2 separate regions of the Homo sapiens genome follow, and region 1 is linked to region 2. Evidence: fine-mapped expression QTL. Tissue or cell type: whole blood. Region 2 holds a variant in brackets; the other region holds the start of a gene. All regions are shown on one strand. Distances are between the middles of the regions.

Region 1 (8,171 bases), 62 kb before region 2:
CAAAGTTTTTCCCATTGTGATCATTAAGGGAGGTTATGACAAAAGATGTTTCTCAAATAAAAAGAATTGTATGAAAGTCAGTAAGATATTATCACAATAGGGATATTGTGAGCCACCACATCTAAGAAGAGGCATCTAAGGTCTAAGGGCCAAAAGACCTAGTTCTACTCCTGTGAGACCTTGGGAGAGCTATCTGACCTTTCTGGGTTTCCAGTTTCTTACCTGTAAAGTGGGGATGAATCCTGCTTACCTACTATCTCAGAGAACTGTGGTATGATCCAGTGGAAACATCCTGAGCCTCACAGAAGTTCTCTATCAAGAGTTGGGTTATGGTAACAAGGAGCAAATGTGGTACTCTCCTAACTTCTTTGCTGTACTGAAGCAAGAGTATGTTTGGGAGAAGAGACAGCGCAGTAGCCAACAGCAACCAAGGGAGCTCAAGGTGCTCTCCAGCCCAGGGGCAAGAAGGAAACGCAGCAAAACACCTGGACCAGCAACCACCATCCACGCTGACCATACAGGAAAGTATCAGTCACATATTTCACTGCCCATTAGTGTAGGTGGAAAACTACCCTGACAATATCCCAACCGGAGCTAAGCTTGCGAGCATTGCAGGCTGCCCCGCACGCACCTGTCTGCACATCTTCTTAATGTGAACTCAGCAAGGAACCCTGATTTATCAGGACCCTGTGTTTTTTGTTTTGTTGCTGTTTTTTTTTTTTGAGACGAAGTCTCGCTCTGTCGCCCAGGCTGGAGTGCAGTGGCGCGATCTCCGCTCACTGCAAGCTCCGCCTCCCGGGTTCACGCCATTCTCCTGCCTCAGCCTCCCGAGTAGCTAGGAGTACAGGTGCCCGCCACCACGCCCGACTAATTTTTTTGTATTTTTTAGTGGAGACGGGGTTTCACCATATTAGCCAGGATGGTCTCAATCTCCTGACCTCGTGATCCGCCCGCCTCGGCCTCCTAAAGTGCTGGGATTACAGGCATGAGCCACCGCGCCCGACCATCAAGGTTCTTAATGTTATGACTGACACCCTAAATAGCAGTGTGCCAATTTTACCTCTTTTCTTACAGACCTCTTGGCTTAAACATGCATATGTACTTGAACACCCACTTACCAGATGTCTGCATGTGTGAGAAGTCAAAATACAAAAAATTGACAGATGCACCTTAGGGATTTCCTGCTAAGTAAAATATTTAAAAGTGAGCACTGGTATTATTTGATGTCCACCGGGTTATTGGCAGAACACACACGGCCCTGCTGTTATCTCCACTTAAACTTTATTAAGTGCTGAGGTAGACAGGAACAACTGCATCTTGGGGCCCACCTTTCCCCCAGGAGCAGGTGCCCTGAGGACCGCGTGGACCCCTTCCACACTGTACTGTGCGTAGTGCCTGTCCACGCATTTCACCTCTCCTACGAGAGTGGACGTGGCCCTAACGGAGTTCTGCTAGACTTCTGCATTTGCCAACAAGCTCCGAGGCTCATTGCCTTCCTCCCCAAAGGCACCAAAGTAAAAATTCTTAATTCCAGGACTCTCTACAAGCATTGACTGTCTCCCAAATAAAAGATGAAATCTAAGTAGAAAAGATGTCAACCACACACAGTAAAGTAATTGTACTCAAAATAGGTGTCTATCAGTAGGATCTCAAGGCGTCTGGGCAGCCTGGCCTCTGCGGCTAGAACTTGGGTGAATTCAGCCGAGCAGTATCTGGGCCCTCGGGTGGGGGAATCGCGGGGAACTTCTTCATTCAGGGGCACGTCGATCAGGCACCCTGGGGGGGTGGCGATCAGGCCCCCTGGGGGGGTGTCCCCAGGCGAGGAGCTGACCTCGGTAAGATCCAGCTGACGAGGCGCTGGGGGGAGGGGAAGAAACTGACTCCCCAGAATAGAACCTCCTTTTAAGAAGGGAAGAGGGACTCCAGCGCAATTCAACCAGAAATCCAGGGCCGAAGTGGTGAATAAGCAGAAAAAGCAGGACCGTCAGGTCTTGACAGTGCCTTTCCCGACTCCAGGGGCAGCGTCGACCGGTCCCACATCAACCCCGCCGGCCAGCGCGCACCTGCCCAGTTCCCACGCCCCGGCCCGGGCCGCTCCGTACCTGCTCTGCCCCGTAGACCGTAGCAAACTGGATGAAGTCCTCGATGCGGACGAAACCGTCCCCATCCCCGTCCAGGGCATCGAACACGGCTCGGAGGCGGGGGCCGTCCTCCTGACTCCCCACGGGCTCGCTCGGAAGGGGGTGGGTCTGGCTGAGGTCCGAGGGCTGCGGCGGGGACCCGGGACCTTGCTCCAGCGCCAGCTCGCCCGCCGTGGGCGCGGGGAAGGGAGAGAAGACGTCGACCTCGCCCCGCGCTCGGTGGCTGCTGCTGGACCCCTGCAAGCGGAAAGGCGCGCTCTCCGGGCAGCTCGCGGGGCCACACTCCTCGGGCTCCTCAGTCCAGGAGAACAACGGGTCGAGTTCTGGAAGCGGCGCTTCGGAGCGCGGCCCTGGGCCCGGGGCGTCGGGGCTCGCAAGCTGCCCCCGCGGGCCGGAGCGCGGCGGCGGGGCGGACGGCCCGGGGTCTCGCGGGCCTCCCTCCAGCCCCGGGGCCGGCCCGGCGCTCCAACGCGCCCCGCCATCTGCAGCGGCCCCGGGCGCAGGCTCATCCAGGCCCGGGGACTGCGGGTCGGGGCCGCCGACGGGCGCTCCGAGGCGTAGCTCCGCAGGGCCCGGAGCCAGTTGTGCCGCCCCCGGCCCGTCCGGCCCGCCCGGCTCCGGGTCGGGCCCCGGCGGCTCCGAGCCCGGGGGCGAGGCCGGCGGGGCCGACGCCATGCTCCCGAGAGGCTAGTGGTGCGGAAGGGCGCGGGCGGCAGACAAAGGCGCTCAGGGCGCGGCGGCGGGCGCGGGCATCCCCTCGGCGGCGCGGGCGGGCGCGCGCGGGGCGCCCGGGCTGCTGGGGCTGGCGCTCGGGCCCTGCTCTGTCCTCGCCCATCTTCGCACCGCGCCTCAGCTGCCCTCGGCCCGGCGGCGCGGCGGGCGCAGGCCCATGGCGGCGGGGCGGCCTAGGGAGGGCGGCGAGGATCCGGGCGGCGGATGGCGGGGGACGGGGGCCGAGGAGGCCGGGGGACGGGGGCCGAGGAGGCCGGAGGCCGCGGAGCCTGTGAAGCAGGATGAGGAGACTAAGGAGGCTGAGGCGCCTGAGGTACCCGGAGAACTAACGCCGCCGCCGCCCAGGCCCCGCCCCCCGTCGGGCCTGACGTCAGCACGTCCCGGCGGGGTCCCAGCCCCTCGCCGGCTTGCTGTAGAGGCAGGCGCCGGGTGTGTCGCGGCAGTGCAGCGGCCGCGAAGGGGTGTTTTGCTGTATGTCATATTCCTCGTTTCGCCAGAGCGGGGGTCCCGAGCTTCGGGCGCGGGACGCGGGGGTGCTCCGAGGCTGCGAGTGGAGGCGTGACGTGACGTCCCTGGCAAGAGGCGCGCGGAGTCAGGCCTTACTTAGAACGTGTTCCCGCCGCACAGCTACCAGCGGGCGCGACCGCTACCCACGCATGGTGCGGTCGAGTAAACGGCACCGCCTGGCGAGCGAGAGACGCAAAGGGACATAGCCCCCTAGGAGCTGAGCTCTTCGGGGGTAAAGCGTTCTCACGTTGATGAGACCAGGAGGCGGCGCACGCCTGGCTCCGCGGCCCAGGGGTTGCAGGTGCCCCAGGGTTCGCGGGGCGCAGACGCCGCAGAGGGCGACGCCCTGCCCGGGTCCCGCGCGGACCCGGGGGACGCAGGGTCTGACACGGAGTGCGGAGGGGCCCCAGACACGCAGTCCATGTCCCTTGAAACCAGAGGCACGCGCGGCCACGCGCTAGGCCTTTCCCTTAAGCCTGTGACCAAGATCTCCGGGACTCCCAGCGTTGGGACGGGCGCGCTGGCCCACGCCCAAGCGGGAGGATCGCTTGCGCCCAGGAGATTGAGACCAGCCTGAGCACCAAAGCGAGACCTCGTCTCTACAAAAAATAAGACTCAAGAAGACACCCAGGGTGAATCGCCCGTCTGCAGCCAGCCTCCCGAGCACCGTGGCCGCGTCTGACAACTGACCTCTGTGTCTGGGTGTCCCTGTCCTCAGAGGGACACGGGACCTCAGAAAGGACCACAGCCCGGCGGCAGGCATGATGGTGGGAAAGCTAGTTAGGACAGGTGAGGCACTAAATTTAGCCTGTCATAATTTGTATCAGGGAAATGATGAACTTGTATTTTTACACACCATGGGCACCAACACAAGATATGGTTTCGTAAGCAGCTTTGGCAAGAACCAAAGGAACGGAACCTCTGCTTCCAAGTGTACGGTCAGGAGCAGCGTGTTAATTAAGTGAGTCATCTTCCGTGGCAGAATCCCAGGGTACATGGGACCAGACTTCGCGAGGCTGGCATTAGGAAAAGGAATGTGAGGGATCCTCCTCCCCAAACCGTATTCTCATTTTCTTGTAAGAGCTGTACGTGTTCATGAGGAAGATACTGCATTCAAAGAACGAAATCACCAGCAGCTTTGGCAAGAATTCAAATTTGGGCTGATGCCTTCGGCCGGATAAAATTTTCAGAAGCAGTGATAGTGATGTGTCAACCTTTCTAAATAGGGGTGTTAGTGTGGGCGAGGCAGAGACAGCAGGCTCCCTCTGCTTTTATGTGCCGGCGCTGCCAGAGGCAGAAGGCTGGCTTTCTGAGAGCAGGGGCCCGCACGCTCTGTCTGTGCTAGGGCTGGAAAACGTCCATTGCGTGCCCGGCTGGTGTCCTCCATGGAACCACAGCCTGGAAGCCTGCACCTCCCTGCCTGGACCAGTTAGAGGCTGTTCATGAAAGACTAAAGGGACAAGTTCCCGTCTATCCGTCTGCTGTTCAGAGCTACTATCTGTGTCCCCTTTGTAGGCTGTGGGCTGTAGCAGTTCCTTCTTTTCTTTTCTTTTCTTTTTTTTCCCCGAGACAGGGTTTTGCTCTGTTGCCCAGGCTGCAGTGCAGTGGTGCGACCATAGCTCACGGCAGCCTCAACCTCCTAGGCTCAAGAGATCCTCCCACCTTAGGCCAGGTGTGGTAGCTCATGCCTGTAATCCCAGGACTGTGGGAGGCTGAGGCGGGCGGATCACGAGGTCAGAAAATGGAGACCATCCTGGCTAACACGGTGAAACCCCGTCTCTACTAAAAATACAAAAAAACAAAAATTAGCCAGGTGTGGTGGCAGGCACCTGTAGTCCCAGCTATTTGGGAGGCTGAGGCAGGAGAAAGGCGTGAACCCGGGAGGCAGAGCTTGCAGCGAGCCAAGATTGCACCATTGCACTCCAGCCTGGATGATAGAGCAAGACTCCGTCTCCAAAATAAAAAATAAAAATAGAAGAGAGATCCTCCCACCTCAGCCTCTCCAGTAGCTGAGACCACAGATCTGCAGCACCTTATTATCTTTTTTTTTTTTTTGATATGGAGTCTCACTCTGTCGCCCAGGCTGGAGTGCAATGGCGCGATCTCTGGTCACTGCAACCTCCGCCTCCCGGGTTCAAGTGATTCCCCTACCTCAGCCTCCTGAGTAGCTGGGATTACAGGCGTATGCCACCAAGGCCGGCTAATTTTTTGTATTTTTAGTAGAGACCGGGGTTTCACCATGTTGGTCAAGCTGGTCTCAAACTCCTGACCTCAAGTGATCCGCCCACCTCGGCCTCCCAAAGTGCTGGGATTATTGGCATGAGTCACCACACTTGGCCTCAACATGCGTTTTGGAGGGTATAAACATTCAAAGCATAGCCTCCATCTTCTCACTCTGTCCTCACATGTTGGAGAAAGATTGTCTCTTTTGGGCTGGGCGTGGGAGCTCATGCCTGTAATTCCAGCACTTTGGGAGGCCGAGGCGGGTGGATCACGAGGTCAGGAGTTCAAGACCAGCCTGGCCAAGATGGTGAAACCCCGTATCTACTAAAAAATAGAAAATTTAGGCCGGGCGCGGTTGCTCAGCCTATAATCCCAGCACTTTGGGAGGCAAGGTGGGCGGATCACAAGGTCAAGAGATCGAAAACATCCTGGCAAACATGGTGAAACCCTGTCTCTACTAAAAATACAAAAATTAGCCGGGTGTGGTGGCACCCACCTGTAGTCCCAGCTACTCGGGAGCCTGAGGGAGGAGAATCGCTTGAACCTGGGAGGCAGAGGTTGCAGTGAGCGAAGATCGCACCACTGCACTCCAGCCTGGCGACAGAGCGAGACTCCACCTAAAAAATATATGTATATATTAGCCGGCCGTGGTGGCGGGCACCTGTAATCCCAGCTACTCAGGAGGCTGAGGCAAAGAATTGCTTGAACCCGGGAGGTGGAGGTTGCAGTGAGTCAAGATCACACCACTGTACTGCAGCCTGGGTGATGGAGTGAGACTCTGTCTCAAAAAAAAAGAAAAAAAATTATCCGGGGGCGGTGGCGGGTGCGTGTAATCCCAGCTACTCAGGAGGCTGAACAGGGTAATCACTTGAGCCTGGGAGGCAGAGGTTGCAATGAGCTGAGATCCAGCCACTACACTCCAGCCTGGGCAACAGAGCGAGACTATCTCAAAAAAAAAAAAAAGGCGGGCGTAATGGCTCACGCCTGTAATCCCAACACTTTAGGAGGCCAAGGCGGGTGGATAACCTGAGGTCAGGAGTTCGAGACTAGCCTGGCCAACATGGTAAAACCCTGTCTCTACTAAAAATACAAAAACTAGCTGAGCGTGGTGGCGTGTCCTGTAATCCCAGCTACCTGGGAGGCTGAGGCAGGAGAATACTTGAACCCGGGAGGTGGAGGTTGCAGTGAGCCAAGATCCCACCATTGCACTCCAGCCTGGGCAACAAGAGGGAAACTCCATCTCAAGGAAAACAATAAAATAAAAATAAGGCTGGGCACGGTGCCTCACGCCTGTAATCCCAGCACTCTGGGAGACCGATGCGGGTGGATTACCTGAGGTCAGGAGTTCAAGACCAGGCTTGCCATGGTGAAACCCCATCTCTACTAAAAATACAAAAAATTAGCCAGGCATGGTGGTGCATGCCTGTAATCCCAGCTACTTGGGAGGCTGAGGCAGGAGAATCACTAGAACCTGGGAGGCGGAGGTTGCAGTGAATCGAGATTGTGCCATGGCACTCCAGCCTGGGCAGCAAGAGTGAAACTCCGTCTCAAAAAAAGAAAAAAGAAAAAAAAAGACTGTCTCTTCTAATAAGGGCACTGTTCCCATCGTGAGGGCCCCACCTTGCTGACCGTATCTAACCCTAATTATTATTATTATTATTTTTTTTTGAGACGGAGTCTTGCTCTGTCGTCCAGGCTGAAGTGCAATGGCGCCATCTCAGCTCACTGCAATCTCTGCCTCCCGGATTCATGCCATTCTCCTGCCTCAGCCTCCCCAGTAGCTGGGACCACAGGCACCCGCCACCATGCCTGGCTAATTGTTTTGTATTTTTACTAGAGCCGGGGTTTCACCGTGTTAACCAGGATGGTCTCGATCTCCTGAGCTCATGATCCACCCGCCTCGGCATCCCAAAGTGCTGGGATTACAGGCGTGAGCCACCGCGCCCGGCCCTAACCCTAAGTTATACCTCCCAAAGACCTCATCTCCAAATACCATCCCGTTGGCGTTAGGACTCCAATATATAAATTTTGGGGTAGCAACTGGGAAGAGAGAGTTAGAATGGATTTAATGGACAAAATATTCATTTCTAGAATACACAAAAGAATTTCTCAAAAAACAGTAAACGAACAGCAACCCGATAGAAAAACGAGGAAAGAATATGAATAAGCAGCTCCAGAAGAGGAAATTCAGGTGGCCGGTAAACACATGAAAAAGATGCTCATCTTCACTGGTCACCAGGAAAATGTGTGAGTGTAGCCCTTGACACCAATCAGAGTAAGTCTGGGGACACCAGGGAGTGGGGATTTGGCACCAGTCGTGCAGCTGAAGGTCGGAATACTCCAGTGTGGGATCCGCCTTCCAGTACCTGCCGGAGAAACTGCACATGTCCGCAGGGAGATGGAAAGACCTTGTTTCCTTCGGGGATTTGTACTTCTCTGGAAGAAGAGCCGAACGGCTTCAGTGGAGCCTGTTGTCTGTTGTGAAGTGTAGCAGTTTAAGTGAGTGCACCACATCTGCACAATTGATAGTACATGCTATGTAATACCATTTTTCATTTATTTTTTTAG
Region 2 (8,171 bases):
GGTGTCCCCTCCTGCTACCTCCACCTGACCTGCAGGGTGGAGGTTTGGCCAGCGGGAAGCCGGGCTGTGCACCCTAAGGCATTTCCCGCCCTGAGGTTTTGGGGGTACCTGACCCTCTCCCCCAACCCTTACCTGGAAATCCTGATCCTCCGGACCCATTCGGTTTTCCCAGGGAGCACAGAGGGAGGGCTCCCCCAGCTGCATGTGCAGAATGACAAGGGGGGGTTTATGTCCCCTGAGCCTAAGCCAGCCCCAGCTGGTGGCAGGATGGGGTGAACTGGAGGCAGCTGCCTGACGTGGGCCTGCTGGCTGATTGAGGGGCCCCTGGCTCCCAAGGGGGCTGTGGCAGAGTCCAGAGGGAGTCTGCAGTTGGCCCTGCTGGACTGCAGGGGAGCACGTGGCTCCCGGGGCCGCAAGGGGTCCCTGGGGTCAGGACCTGCCTGGTTCAGAGCCCTGGGAGGGCCCCCGAGGTCTCTTTCCACACCGGGCACCTCTGCCGACATGTCCTGCTGCTCCCCACACCAGTGCCTTCATGTGATGCCCCTGCTCTGTGAACGACCTTGAAAAAAATTTTAGGCCAGGCACGGTGGCTCACACCTGTAATCCGAGCACTTTGGGAGGCCGAGGCGGGTGGATCACGAGGTCAGGAGATAGAGACCATCCTGGCCAACACGGTGAAACCCCATCTCTACTAAAAATACAAAAAATTAGCTAGGCATGTTGACACATGCCTGTGATCTCAGCTACACGGGAGGCTGAGGGAGGAGAATCGCTTGAACCTGGAAGGCAGAGCTTGCAGTGAGCTGAGATTGCACCACTGTACTCCAGCTTGGGTGACAGAGCGAGACTCTGTCTCAAAAAGAAAAAAAAAAAGGCCGGGCGCAGTGGCTCACGCCTGTAATCCCAGCATTTTGGGAGGCCGAGGCGGGCGGATCACGAGGTCAGGAAATCGAGACCTAACACGGTGAAACCCCATCTCTACTAAAAATACAAAAAAGTTAGCTGGGCATGGTGGCAGGTGCCTGTAGTCCCAGCTACTCGGGAGGCTGAGGCAGGAGAATGGCATGAACCCGGGAGGTGGAGGTTACAGTGAGTGGAGATCGCACCACTGCACTCTAGCCTGGGCGACAGAGCGAGACACCGTCTCAAAAAAATAAATAAAAATCATACCGGGCACTGTGGCTTACACCTATAATCCCAGCACTTTGGGAGGCTGAGGCAGGCAGATCACCTGAGGTTAGCAGTTCAAGACTAGTCTGGACAACATAGTGAAACCCCCATCTCTACTAAATACAAAAATTTAGCCGGGTGTGGTGGCGCACACCTGTAATCCCAGCTACTTGGGAGGCTGAAGCAGGCGAATTGCTTGAACCCGGGAGGTGGAGGTTGCAGTGAGCCACGATTGCACCATTGCACTCCACCTGGGCAACAAGAGCAAAACTCTGTCTCAAAAAAAAAACACTTTATGAAAAACAGACAGTGCTCAGTCAGCTCTGTGGGGCCATGAGGCTCAGCCCAGCTGCCCACAGCATGAGTGCTGTTCCGTGCCCCAGCTCTAGCCAGAGTTGGGATGTTGTGGCCACGCCCTGCCCTGCACAGTTCCCGTGTTCAGCTGTGAACTTAAGCCAAGCCCCCTCCAGCCCCTCGGCCTGCCCCTGACTCCCTGATGGTGTGTGTGTCCAGCACCTCCCAACTCAGGCCTCGGTGGCTGCCCCTCACTCACCACCTGCTCTTTCCCACCCCAACCAAGCCCCACGGTAAGCAGGGCTCCTGCCAAGGCCTGTAGGGCTTCCTGGGTCAGACTCTGGGGGCCCCAAGAAGTTAGGGGCCAGGCTTGGCAATGGGCTGGTAGGCGCTGGCCTCGGTCCCCCTGTCGGCCATGGTGGCACGTGCTTATCAGTGTGTCCTGACTTGTGTTGACTCAGGGTTGTGGGTTTGGGACCAGGCTACCAGCTGGCCAGTGGGAGAAGCTGCATTTGGCCTCAGCAGGTTACCTCCTCTGCCAGTCACCTCGATGGAACCCATGGCTGTTTAGTCCTCCCGCAGGGGAGGCCAGGCCAGACTGAGGTGGGGTCTGGGTGTGGCCAGGGCCCTGACAACTTTCTGGTCAGAGGCCACAAAAGTCCTTGACTGAGAAAAAGGTAAGAGGCCTTCCGTAAATGCCGGACCCATCCCTCAAGACCAAACCGTGACTCAGGTCTGGGACAGACCCAGCAGCTGGATCCAGCATGCTATTCTGCCTTCTGGGTTGTGGGGAGGGGTCCCAGGGACTGTACCGGCTCCAACATGTGTGTGGGGAACTGAGAACTGAGCTGGGAGCCCGGGCAGCCAACCTGGGAATGGCTGCTGGCCACCCCTCCCCGCCCTCCCCGCCCTCCCCACGCCCACCCCGCCCTCCCCGCGCCCACCCCACCCCTTCCCTGCCCTCCCTATGCCCACCCCACCCCTTCCAGAGCCAGGCCGGGCTGGGGCCACCAGACCCTCCTTCTGCCATCCTCACCAATCACACCTGTCAGGCTCCTTCCTGAAGTGTTGGACTCCGTCTCTGAGAACGGCCAGTTCTCCCTCACTGAGGCGTGCAGACCCTCAGGCACCTGGAGTGGGAGAGGGATCTGTGCAGAGCAAGATCAACCCCACAGGAGGCAGAGCTGCCCTGGGCCGGCCTGCACCAGCCCCAGCCTCTCGGAGCCCTCAGGGGCCAGGAGTTCCCCACGCGTGTCCCAGGCTTGGCAGAGGCCATGTGTTTCCATGACAACAGTCAGCCGCGGTGTCGGGCAGAGAATGGGCTGTGGACCTGAGGGTGGACTCCGGGGTGGACCCTCACGGCTATGGGCAGGGATCCCTTGGGGGTAGAAAACTGGAGGACTGGAAGGGGTGTCAGTGACCCCATCACTCCACATAGAGACGGGGAAGCCAAGGCCAGGAAGGGTAGGGTGGAGTGGATGTGAGGCTGGCCTGAGGCACCCAGTCACAAGTCCATGTCTGACCCCTGACCCCAAGGGTCTCGCCTGCTTCCTGAGTCCTGCTCAGGTGCACAGAGCAGCAGGATAGTGGAGGGAAGGGCATGGAGAGCGGGCGGGCCCTCTGGGTCGCTTGGCAACTCTGCTCCTGTCCTGTGCCCCCGTCAGGGTGCTGGGAGCCCAAGGGAGCTGCCGGGAGACCACTGTGTGTCCCGCGGGCCTGCTTAGGGCTCCGCCTCCACCTTCAGTCCTTGGCCGCCCTCGCCCTCTCACCAGTGCCCGTCTGTAACTCCAGCCCTCTGCTGGCCCCAGGCACGGGCTGGATTGTGTGGGGCTCCCAGGCTCCCTTGAGTCCCTGTCCCTCTGACACCCACCAGCCACCCAAGCTGGAACCCTGGCCACATGGCCACACCCAGCAGCCTGGGCTCCCGTGCGGTCCTGGCTCCCTCTGCCGCAGCGCCCCGCAGCCCTCCCTAGGCGGGCTCCAGCCTTGGACCATCCTCCCTAACCACTGCCTGCTGTCCTGGGATGGTGTCCCTACCCACATCCTGTCCCCAGACAAGCTGGTAGCTCTGAGCATGGCATGGGAAGGGCTTCAAGGCCGGGTTCCATCCTGGGACAGGCGGCTCACAACCAGGCCAGTGCGAAGAAGCTTGGATCCGGACCCAGAGTCCTGGGGGAGCAGCCGCGGCCCGAGACCCCCGGCGCCCAGAGTCCTGGGGGAGCAGCCGCGGCCCGAGACCCCCGGCGCCCAGAGTCCTGGGGGAGCAGCCGCGGCCCGAGACCCCCGGCGCCCAGAGTCCTGGGGGAGCAGCCGCGGCCCGAGACCCCCGGCGCCCAGGCCCATGCCAAGCCCGGTTCCCTGGGACTGGCCCCGAAGTCGCTCTCTTGAAGGTGGATCCCCATGGACCATGCTCCAGGCTCCCCTGGATCCCGGGTCCCTCTGATGGCCTTGGTAGTGGCCTCCCTGGGCTGCAGCAGCCCAAGGCTCTCGCTTGCTCCTTGCAGTCCTGCAGCTGTTCATCACCAGATTCTGCTCATCGGGTGCTGGGCCTGGGCCAGGAAGTGGGACTCAGCTTCCCGGGCTTAGGGGAAGCCTTCGAAGGGGTCTTGGCCAGGCAGTGCTGCTGTCAGAGCGCGTGGACAAGCCAACACTGTTTCTGGCTGTCACGGGGCTGGGGGCAGGGGGTGGTTCCGGGGATGCTCAGTGCCCTGCAGTGCCCAGGATGTCCACGGGTGACGGTTGAGAAGCCTCGTCTCCAGACATACGGGAAAGCTTTGCCAGGGGCCAATGCTGGTGCGCCCTGGAGGGAAGAGGCGTTCTTGGGA[C/T]GCAAGAGGGCACTGCAGCCCAGGGGAGAGCGGGTGCAGCCGCAGGTGTGTGACTGATGGCGAGACGGTCTCCTCAGTGTGGCCAAAGACCCAGAGTCCTGCCCAGTGGGAACCCAAGGTCCAGGGAGCAAGGCCTCGGGAGGGGCCTCAGGGGGCTTGTGAGACGGGACTGTGTGAGCACGTGCACGTATTCCACAGGCCGCAGCTAACGAGAGGGTGGCGGAGTGGACTGTGGGCGGAGAGAAAGCTGGCAGCCTTTGCCGTCTGAGGTGGGCGAGAGCTTGGCTCTGCCCAGTGGGGCTGGGAAGTTCTCCCTGCTCCCGCTTCCACTGCTCCCACCCTTTATTTTCCCACCAGACTGGGCCTGGCCTTCAGCCCCTGAGGCAAGCCTGACCTGAAGTCCTCCTCTCAGCAGGGGCTGCAAGGCCAGTGCTTCTGCCTCTGCTGGGGGTAAGGCAGGGCACAGAGTGGCCCCGGACAGGCCAGGAGAGGGGCAAGGACCCCACACACTGGACATGAATGAAACACACGGAAACGCTTAACAGCTGTTGTGGGGACAGCTACCATGCAGCCATGCCCACCTCGTTCCTCCAAGGGGACCCTGGCATGGGCCCACGGGCAGTGCCGCCTGCTCCCTCAGCAGTCAGGAGTGGCTCGGGGGTGGCGGTGTCTAAAGGGGCTGGTTGCCATGGCTACCATAGGGTTCTGAGGCCCGTCATCTGGTCCCTGCCTCAGCCAATCGGCGGCAGGAGCCCGAGCTGCAGCCCAGAGTCACGCTTCTGCCTCCCAGCCACACAGTGGCCAAGAGCAGGGACCTGCTTCCCAGAGTGGCTGAAAGTGCTCGGACGGACGGCCAAGCCCATCATGGCGGACAGCGGGACGGTGGGGCGTGAGCAGGCACACGGAGCCAGGCAGGTGAGGTAAGCCGGGCAGGCGGCCGGGCGGACAGGTGGACGCGCCTCCTCTGCCCATTGTTCTCGCGGCTGCGGCCCTGCCCTCGGCCCACCCCACCCTCGAGTGCAAGCCCACACGCAGCGCCCGCACCCTCACCCTCAGACCCTCTCCGGGTGTCCCGAGGAAGGGTCAGGGGAAGAGACAAAGGGAGCAGGGTGAGGCAGGATGAATCCTGACGGACCTCGGACCCCAAAACCGCCCCGGTGGGTCTTCCACGTCAGGTTTCACATGGAGGCGGCATCAAAGACCCCCGACTGATCCAGGCCGGCGTCCCGGCCGCCACTCCAAGGTTAGGAGACAAGCCATGTCAAGTCGGTGCCGTTTAAGCAGCATTTTTTCGAGGAGAAAAAAAAAAAAGAAACAGAAGCGATATAAAGAAAAAAAATGTCCACCTATGACACGGGAAGCGGCCAGCCCGATGGATCAGAAGCGCCAAATCCCATTACTCGGGACTTCAGGGACAGGCCCTGCAAGGGCAGCTGCGATTAAGAGCTTGTCAATGGACTCTCCTTTAGAGATCAAAGCGGGGCGTGCTTGTGTGTGTGTGCGTGTGCACGTGTGTGCGCGTGCACGCGTGTACGTGCAGGAGCGGACACTGTGGGGTGACAGCACAGAGGTCGTGCACCGCAGCACCACGGGGCCCATACGTCGCCGACGCGGCCACCTCCACACTGCTTGCGTCCTTGCTGCCGTGTGCGACGTGTGTGGACGCGGCTGGGGGCCTGGGCCGGGTACCTGGTCCCAACACCTGCACCCTTTCAAAGGCCTCCACCTCCTGCTAGAGGCCGTGCCTTCCCCAGGTTCTGCCCAGAGGAGCCCGCAGGGGCCGAGCTGGGTGTGAGGACAGCCGTGGCTGCGTCTCCTCCCCCCGACCACGTCCTGCTGCCCACAGAGGCCTTGAGCTCTCAGTTGGCCTGGCAGGCGCGCCCTGGGGGTTCAAAGCTCCCGTTGACACGATTGTTAGGTTATTAGGTAAACTCTGAGACGTAAATCTTTTAATCCACTGTGGCTAATCCGGTTCACTTTTGTTTGCCACGACAGACGCCGCGGCGACAAAGGGGCCTGGGGCCCAGCACACACAGTCACACGCTCAGAACTTGGCCGCGGCCTCAGGGTTCCTAGGCAGTGGAGAGAGACATCTTGGGACAGCCAAGCAGAGGGAGGCGGCGGAGGGCACAGGTGGGCGGGGGCGCAGGTGGGCCGGGGCAAAGGCAGCTGCCCGCTGGGGGCCGCACTTCCTCACCTCCCATTTAATGTCCCCTTGCCAGCTCGAGGGGGAACCGCTGGGCACTGGGGTGTGCAGGTATCGGGGCCGCTGGGGATAGTGGGCAGAAGGACAGATGAGCACCAACGGGGGGGCGGCAGCGCCCGGAGAGGCGTGTGGGATGGAGGCCGTCAGGGCAGGGAAGGGCGTTCAGGTGAGGGAACAGCAGGGACAAGGACTGTGGTCGGTGTGGCAGGGGCAGGAGTCCCCCCAACAAGGACAGGAAGCGGCCTGAGGCTGCCCAGGGAGGTGGGACGTCACCTGCTACTTCCCGAAGTCAGCGCGAGGCCCCTCGGGGCATGGCCCCTGCACTTGGATGCCACCTCTTTTTGGGAAAACAGCACTGAGGTTGGGGGAGGCCAGCAGGCCCTGCCCTGTGCTCACAATGTGCCTGGGACACCAGACCTGGTCCATGGCCAGCCGTGGGCTCCATCCCGCCACCCGGCCTGTCAGAGAGGGTCACACACGGACCTCTGGGGCTGTGAGGCCAGGTCAGGACGATCACTTTGCCCAGGGGGACACTGGCACAAGGAGGTGCCTGCTTTGCCTAGGGCTACAGGCTGGCCCAAGACAAGGATGGGCACTCAGGTCTCCTGGGAGGCAGGTGCCAGGCCAGGCCCAACAGTCCCCTGATGTCAGCAGCTCCCGAGTTGGGAAGTGGTGGCCGCCCTCCCCTCCTACTTCCCCAGCCCCTGCGGCCGGACCCTCCAGGCAGGCCTACTTGACCACATCCTGGTATCCACCTGGCCCCAGTCCCAGCCCCTGGACACCCTGGGGTCAGAACTCTTCAGAAAGGCAGTGCAGGAGGACTCCCCTCAGGACACTGGGAGGTGTGGACAGTACCCTGGGATGGAGGGGACCGCCTCTGGGCCGCCTGGCTGGCCAGGCCCCCGCCCTGTTGCCAGTGCTTTCCTGTTGGCCTTGGCGTCCTGACCCTTGACCCCTGGAGGCCAGCGGGGATGTGGGGACTGTCAGGTCTGCTGGACGGGGCTGGGCGCAGGCGACGTGGGTGACGGCAGGTCTGGGGCCTGCCCCAGGGGACAAGTATGGACCCGGAGCCAGCGGGGACCAAGCACTGTGGCCACAGCAGCCGTTTCATTTCTTTTTCTTTTTTTTTTTTTTTTTTGAGATGGAGTCTCACTCTGTTGCCCAGGCTGGAGTGCCTTGGCACAATCTTGGCTCACTGCAACCTCTGTCTCCTGGGTTCAAGTGATTCTCCTGCCCCAACCTCCCCAGTAGCCGAGATTACAGGGGCCTGCCACCATACCTGGCTAATTTTTTGCATTTTTAGTAGAGATGGGGTTTCACCACGTTGGCCAGGCTGGTCTCGAGCTCCTGACCTGAGGTGATACGCCCACCTTGGCCTCCCAAAGTGCTAAAATTACAGGCGTGAACCACTGTGCCTGGCCTAATTTTTGTATTTTTAGTAGAGACGGGGTTTCACCATGTTGGCCAGGCTGGTCTCGAACTCTTGACCTCAGGTGATCCACCCGCCTCAGCCTCCCAAAGTGCTGGGATTACAGGTGTGAGCCACCGAGCCTGGCCACACACAGCACCCGTTTCTTTGGGCCCCTGCCCCGCAGCGGCTGAGTGGTTCACCCTCCACCTCTCTGTGGGTGGGTCCTCCTGACCACAGGTGCCCAGCCAATGGTGGGTCCCGGGGG

What was found. PIP is the estimated chance that this variant, and not a neighbour inherited with it, causes the effect.
Region 1: RAB11FIP3 starts here. The variant in region 2 is fine-mapped to the expression of RAB11FIP3 in whole blood (TOPMed, PIP 0.99).

The regions. Positions count from the first base shown.
Region 1 is chr16:420,652-428,822 of GRCh38, reverse strand. It overlaps RAB11FIP3 (RAB11 family interacting protein 3), which reads right to left and starts at 3,174. Exons shown (of 14, transcript NM_014700.4): 1 at 2,103-3,174. The coding sequence starts at 2,816.
Region 2 is chr16:358,452-366,622 of GRCh38, reverse strand. No RefSeq gene overlaps it. Among named protein-coding and RNA genes, the nearest start is that of MRPL28, 8.0 kb to the left of the region's middle. RefSeq lists enhancers at 1,903-2,409, 2,410-2,916, 2,917-3,424, 4,053-4,900, 4,901-5,749. The variant C/T (reference allele first, on the strand shown) is at 4,290.